Linked DNA regions of Homo sapiens. The protein of the gene in region 1 interacts with the protein of each later gene in a pairwise test. Each region holds a gene or a part of one and is shown on either strand. Other genes may lie near its edges.

Region 1 (3,162 bases):
TGTCATCGACAGGCGGGGGTACAGGCGTGGACACAGTGCTGGTGCTGATGTCACCGATGATGTTGAGCGCCTCCTTGAGGGCATGGTACATGCGCAGCATGTCGTCCCGCCGCTGTGCCTGGTCAGCCGACTCCTCCATGAGGCTGCTCTGGTCTGCCGAGGAGTATAGGTAGGCCAGCAGCTCGTGGTGGATGAAGGCCTTCGTCTGCGGGCAGGGGTTGGGGAGGGTCAGGCTTGTGTATCACCCCAACCCAGAACCCACAGTGACTGCTGGAAAAACATCTCTCACAGGGCGGGGCCACCCCCAGACTTTTTTGAAAAAGAGTCTTGCTCTGTCACCCAGGCTGGAGTACAGTGGCTCAATTTCAGCTCACTGCAACCTCCGCCTCCCGGGTTCAAGTAATTATCCTGCCTCAGCCTCCCAAGTAGCTAGGACGACAGGCACGTTGACACCATGCTTGGCTAAGTTTTGTAATTTTTTTAGAGATAGGGTTCCACCATGTGGCCCAGGCTGGTTATGAGATTCTTATTCAACTTATTTCTAGTATCTTGCCTCTTCCATTGATGTCTTTTCTCCTGTTTTAGCTTATTTATTTATTTCCTTAACCTTGGCAGAATAATCCTGTTATATCTTTTTTGTTTTTGCTTTTTTTTTTTTGAGACAGTCTCACTGTCGCCCAGGTTGGAGTGCAGTGGTGCAATCTCAGCTCACTGCAACCTCCGCCTCCCGGGTTTATGCCATTCTCCTGCCTCAGTCTCCCAAGTAGCTGGGACTACAGGCGCCTGCCACCACGCCCAGCTTATTTTTTGTATTTTTAGTAGAGACAGGGTTTCACCCTGTTAGCCAGGATGGTCTCGATCTCCTGACCTTATGATCCGCCTGCCTCAGCCTCCCAAAGTGCTGGGATTACAGGCGTGAGCCACCGCGCCCAGCCAATCCTGTTATATCTTTATTTTTTTGTGACAGAGTCTCACTCTGTCACCCAGGCTGCAGTGCAATCTTGGCTCACTGCAACCTGCGTCTCCTGGGTCCAAGCAATTCTTGTGCCTCAACCTCCCAAGTAGCTGGGACTACAGGCGTGCCCCCCAACCCCCGGCTAATTTTTGTATTTTTAGCAGAGATGGGGTTTCACCATATTGGCCAGGCTGGTCTTTAACTCCTGACCTCAGGTGATCCACCCGCCTTGGCCTCCCAAAGTGCTGGGATTACAGGCGTGAGTGAGCCACTGCGCCCGGCTAATCCTGTTACATCTTCCACCTGGCTTCTGTTCAAACACTACTAGTTTCTGTTCATGAATTTTATACATTGTCCTTTCTGGAACCTCCTACTGGATACAGAAGTTTTTCAGTTACTTTTTTTTTTCTTTTTTTTTGAGACAGAGTCTCCCTCTGTCACCAGGCTGGAGTACAGTGGCATGATCTCCGCTCATTGCAAACTCCACCTCCTAGGTTCAAGTGATTCTCCTGCCTCAGCCTCCAGAGTAGCTGGGACTACAGACGCGTGCCACCACGCCCAGCTAATTTTTGTATTTTTAGTAGAGGGGGGTTTCAGCATGTTGGCCAGGATGGTCTCAGTCTCTTGACCTCGTGATGTGCCCGCCTCAGCCTCCCAAAGTGCTGGGATTACAGGCATGAGCCACCACACCTGGCCGTCACAACTTTTTTTTTTTTTAGATAGGGTCTCACTCCTATCACTCAGGCTGGAATGCAGTGGAGCGATCTTTGCTCACCGCAGCCTCGATCTCCTGGGCTCAAGTGATCTTCCTGCCTCAGCTTCCCGAGTAGCTGGGCCGACAGATTTATTATTTTCTTAAATAATAAAATATTTTTATTTTATAAGAGTCTATTAAAAATGGATAATTATGTCCCATCTTTGGCTGCTATAAAACATCATGGAAAACAATAAGCATGTATAAGCTCACTTTGCACGTGGGCAATTGTCTCTCTTAGAGAAGTTCCTAAAAGTAAACTTGCAGGGTCAAAGGATATATGCATTTTAAATTTCATAGCAGAAGAACCGTATATGTCTCCGATCCTATCGGTATATGAGGAAACATACCAGGACACCATGAAACTGTGAACACTGATCACTACTGAGAATGGGAGCAACAGGGTGGGAGGGCATGGCACGTGGGAGGTGTGTGTGTGTTTTAAATAGGGATGGGGTCTCACTATGTTGTCCAGGCTGGTCTTGAACTCCTGGGATCGAGTGATCCTCCTGCCAAGCCTCCCAAAGTGCTGGGAGTACAGATGTGAGCCACCATGCCCAGCCACACCCTGTGTGGGAGTTTTACTTAGATCCGCAGGTTTCTGTGGTTGACATTCATATACAAAACCCAAGACACTTTTTTTTTGAAAGAGGTTCCTGCTCCATCACCCAGGCTGGAGAGCAGTGGCGTAATCATGGCTCACTGCAGCCTCAACCTCCTGGGCTCAAGTGATGCTCTTACCTCGGTCTTCTGAGTAGCTGGGACTACAGGCATTTGCCACCACGCCCAGCTAATTTTTAAATTTTTTGTAGAGACTGGGGTATGGCTATGTTGCCCAGGCTGGTCTTCAGCTCCTGGGCTCAAGTGATCCTCCCTCCTCAGCCTCCCAAAGTGCTGGGATTACAGGCATGAGCCACTGCTCCGGCCCCAAAGCTGGTTTATAAAGCTTCCTGAGTGGCTAGTGCCATGCCAAAGGCCTGATACACAAGTGCCCTGAGCCCTCTAGCAGCCTGAGCTGGAGATACTATCAGTACAGCTGCATTTCACTGAAGAGGAGCCCAGAGCCCTGAGAGTCTCCAGGGAACCCGGGGCCAGGCGGGTGACGCCCATGAGGAAGAGGCTGGGCCCCAGATCATTAGGACACAGCGGCTGCCCAACACAACCCAAGGGTATGGTTGCAACCAGGGTAAACGTGGGTTTGAATCCCACTTCCCACTTTCCTAAGGAACTTGGGGCAGGTTACTTGATCTCTCTGGCCTTGTTTTCTGTCTGTGAAATGGGGAAGATGGCCGTTCTCCCTCCTGCAGTTATTCTGATGCCAGCCTAAGTTAATTCAGAGAAGGCGCACACCTGCAGTGTTCACTCCAGTTAGTGGACTTGATGGGACTATGGACCCAGTGTGGCTCGGAAACCCTAGGGTTTCCCAAAGAGGATGGCCGTGCAGATTCTGGTG
Region 2 (3,130 bases), on another chromosome or scaffold:
GCTGCGACAAAGGCACGAAGCTCGGAGTAAGAGGAATGGTCAGAGTAAGGGATGACGTGGATATCAGGGTGGGAGCTGTGGATTTTTCGGCTTGTGGGAAGGATAGCAATCGTAGGGTGGGTCTGGTTCCAACGCAGCATGTTGGAATGGCAGATCTCCATATGGTCTACTGCATGGATGCGGCCAGCCTTCTCCTCCACTGTGAACACATCTGCCAGGCCCAGTAGCTGTACCAACTCCAGGCGCCGAGGACTCAATACCACCCAGGTCTGAAACTCCAGGGCCAGCTGCTCCAGCAGTGATTCCTTTCCCAGGCTGTAGAGTCCTAAATAATGTTCAATGTATTGGGGAAAGTAAGAGAAGGAAGAAAATTAAGCTATTGGAAAATCCTAATAAATCAACAAAATGTTTAACAAAAATAGATACAATTCATGGAGAAATCCAGGGAGAATATCAAGGAAGAGGTGGCATTTGAGCTAAGACATATGAAAGGGAATGACACAGAATCCACTCATTCATTTAGTTCAACAAAAGAGAGCATCTAGCAAGTTTCAGGCACCATGAAAACTAATAAAGAAAACTGTCAGTCCTCAAGAAGTACTATCTACAAGGAGACCCAGAAAAACCACAATTAAGAGCAACGTTAAAGATATGTGTACAGGCCGGGCACTGTGGCTCACACCTGTAAGCCTACAATTTTAGGAGGCTGAGGCAGGAGGATTGCTTGAGCCCAGGAGTTCAAGACCAACCTGGGCAACCTGGCAAGACCCTGTCTCTACAAAAATAAACAAATAAGCATGTTGGTGCACGCCTATAGTTCCTGGTACACAGGAAGCTGACGCGGGAGGATCACTTGAGTCCGGGAGGTCCAGGCTGCAGTGAGCTGTGATCATGCCACTACCCTCCAGCCTGGGCAACAGAGTGAGACCCTGTCTCTTAAAAAAAAACAAAAAAAGTATACAGTATTGTATCTAACAGGTGATGGAGTTAGGGAACGTTAGGCTAAATCTTAAAGGATGGGCAAGGTTAACCTGGCAAGGAAAGGGTAGAAAGGGTATAGTGGAAAACATTTTAAGAGGGGTCAGTTTGCTGTTACTAAAGTAAAAAAGGAATTGATAAGAAATGATACCAGAGAGGCAAGCAAGGGCCATATAATAGAGCGTCTTATATGTACCGCTAAGAAGCTTGGACTTCATTGTGTAAGTGAAGGGGAGCCACTGAGTGTGAAGCAGGAAAATGGCTAATTCTAATCATAAGAATAATATGCTCAGAGCAGGGCTTTAAAAAGAAAAATATGGTAATAATATTATTTGACTGCCAGGATGAGAAGAAGCTGGAGTGGAAGTTTCAATTGAAGGGCCCAAATAGTACTTACAGAGAAAGAAATGGAGACATTAATTTGGGAAATGGTTATGGTAACAGATATGGGAGATGTTGTTTAATAGCTGTTCTCAGACTTTTTCTGAAGAAGTTTCAAATCCACAACCAGATTGTGAACGCCATAAAAAGAAGTATATATTATTTATATCCACTTTATTCCTGATTATGGTTCAAAATCTCACTCCTTGGGCACAAATGGAGCGGATTTTTCTTCTCTCTATATATATTCCCACTTCCACCTCCCCACAGGTCCTTCCCTACCAGACTGTGAGCCCTCCAAGTCAGAGACTATATTTTATTCATCTTTATATCCCCACTGCCTATTGGATACTTGGTACTTAGTGGGTAGAGGCTTATTACATATTTGCAAAATTAATTAAGGCTTACTATAGCATCCTCCTAGCCAGCTTTGCTTTTTTGAGAAAATTCTGCATTAAAATATTAAGAATGGTTAGGTCTTTATAAGTAGCTAAGCAATCCTGAGAGTAGAGGATATTTCTCAATCGATTTGGTAGTCACCCTGGAAGTTATATAATTTTTTCAATGCCTTTGTTTAGTCTCATTTTGAAACTCCTTTCAGAGTTGAGACATGTCCTTTTCAAATATTTATAATGGTGGCAAGTCTTTGTCCTTTTGTAGACTCACAAATTTGGAAACAACCAAAAAAGTAATTTAGAACCAAATCTATTACATTTATTTATTTTATAAAACAAAAATGTATTTTCATAAACTATTCCAAATGGCAACTCCAAGAAAGAGTCCTCAACAATGTTTTATACTATTTATAATCAGTACAACAAGCACAAACCTGTTTTTTCAGTATACTTAATTTAAAGCACAACGCTCACTTAAATATCTATGTTCTGATAAATTTCATTCATTCATATTGAATGCTTCTGTGTCAGGCATTAGTGTAGGCATTTGTGATACACCCATAATAAAACAGAGACTGCCATAGTGGAATTCACATTCTAGCAGGGGGAATCAGACAATAAAAAGTCCAATAAATACATAAATTATAGAATATATTGCAAGGTGATGAGTGCATATTGTCCCTCTTCTACTTAAAATCCTTCAATAGCTCTTGGTTGGGTTTAGGATCAAGTCCAAAATGGCTTAACAGCACTTCAGCCCCTCTTGCCTTTTCAGCCTCCTTGCCCACTGTGTGCCTGTCATACTGACTGCTGCTTCTCTGTTCCACAAACACACAAAGTCTCTTCCCATTTCCAGTGATGCTCTTAAGGAGTTTATGCTTGTGTGTGTGTGTGTGTGCACGCGTATGTGCATGGGCCAGAGGAAGTGCATGATAGACAACAAGTAAGCAATAGCATATTTAAAAATATATATAGTATATGAGTGCTATAAAAAAATGAAAAAAATGAATTGGTATGGATGATCAGGAGTTGGGAATGGGGATGGTGGGCAGGTTGCAGTTTTACTTATTTCATTCATTCATTCATTTATTGAGACAGGGTCTTGCTCTGTCATCCAGGCTGGAGTGCAATGGCACTTACATGGCTCACTGCAACCTTGACCTCCTACTGGACCCAGGCAATCCTCCTGTCTCAGTCCCCTGTGTAGCTGGGACCACAGGCACGCACCATCGTGCCCAACTGATTTTTAAATTTTTTGTAGAGACAGGGTCTTGCCATGTTGCCCAAGCTGGTCTCAAACGCCTGGGCTCAAATGACCCTCCCATCTTGGCCTCCCAAAGTGCTGGGATTATAGGCATGAACCACCACACCTAGCC

What was found. The genes of interacting proteins can lie anywhere in the genome.
Region 2: the proteins of DNM2 (region 1) and DCLRE1B interact in binary tests that used the Homo sapiens proteins (3 or more experiments, as listed by UniProt).

The regions. Positions count from the first base shown.
Region 1 is NC_000019.10:10,826,079-10,829,240, reverse strand, and holds part of DNM2 (dynamin-2), read right to left. Parts: intron 269-3,162; exon of another isoform or gene 206-268; coding exon 1-205. UniProt on the Homo sapiens protein: Catalyzes the hydrolysis of GTP and utilizes this energy to mediate vesicle scission at plasma membrane during endocytosis and filament remodeling at many actin structures during organization of the actin cytoskeleton.
Region 2 is NC_000001.11:113,908,326-113,911,455, reverse strand, and holds part of DCLRE1B (5' exonuclease Apollo), read right to left. Parts: intron 326-3,130; coding exon 1-325.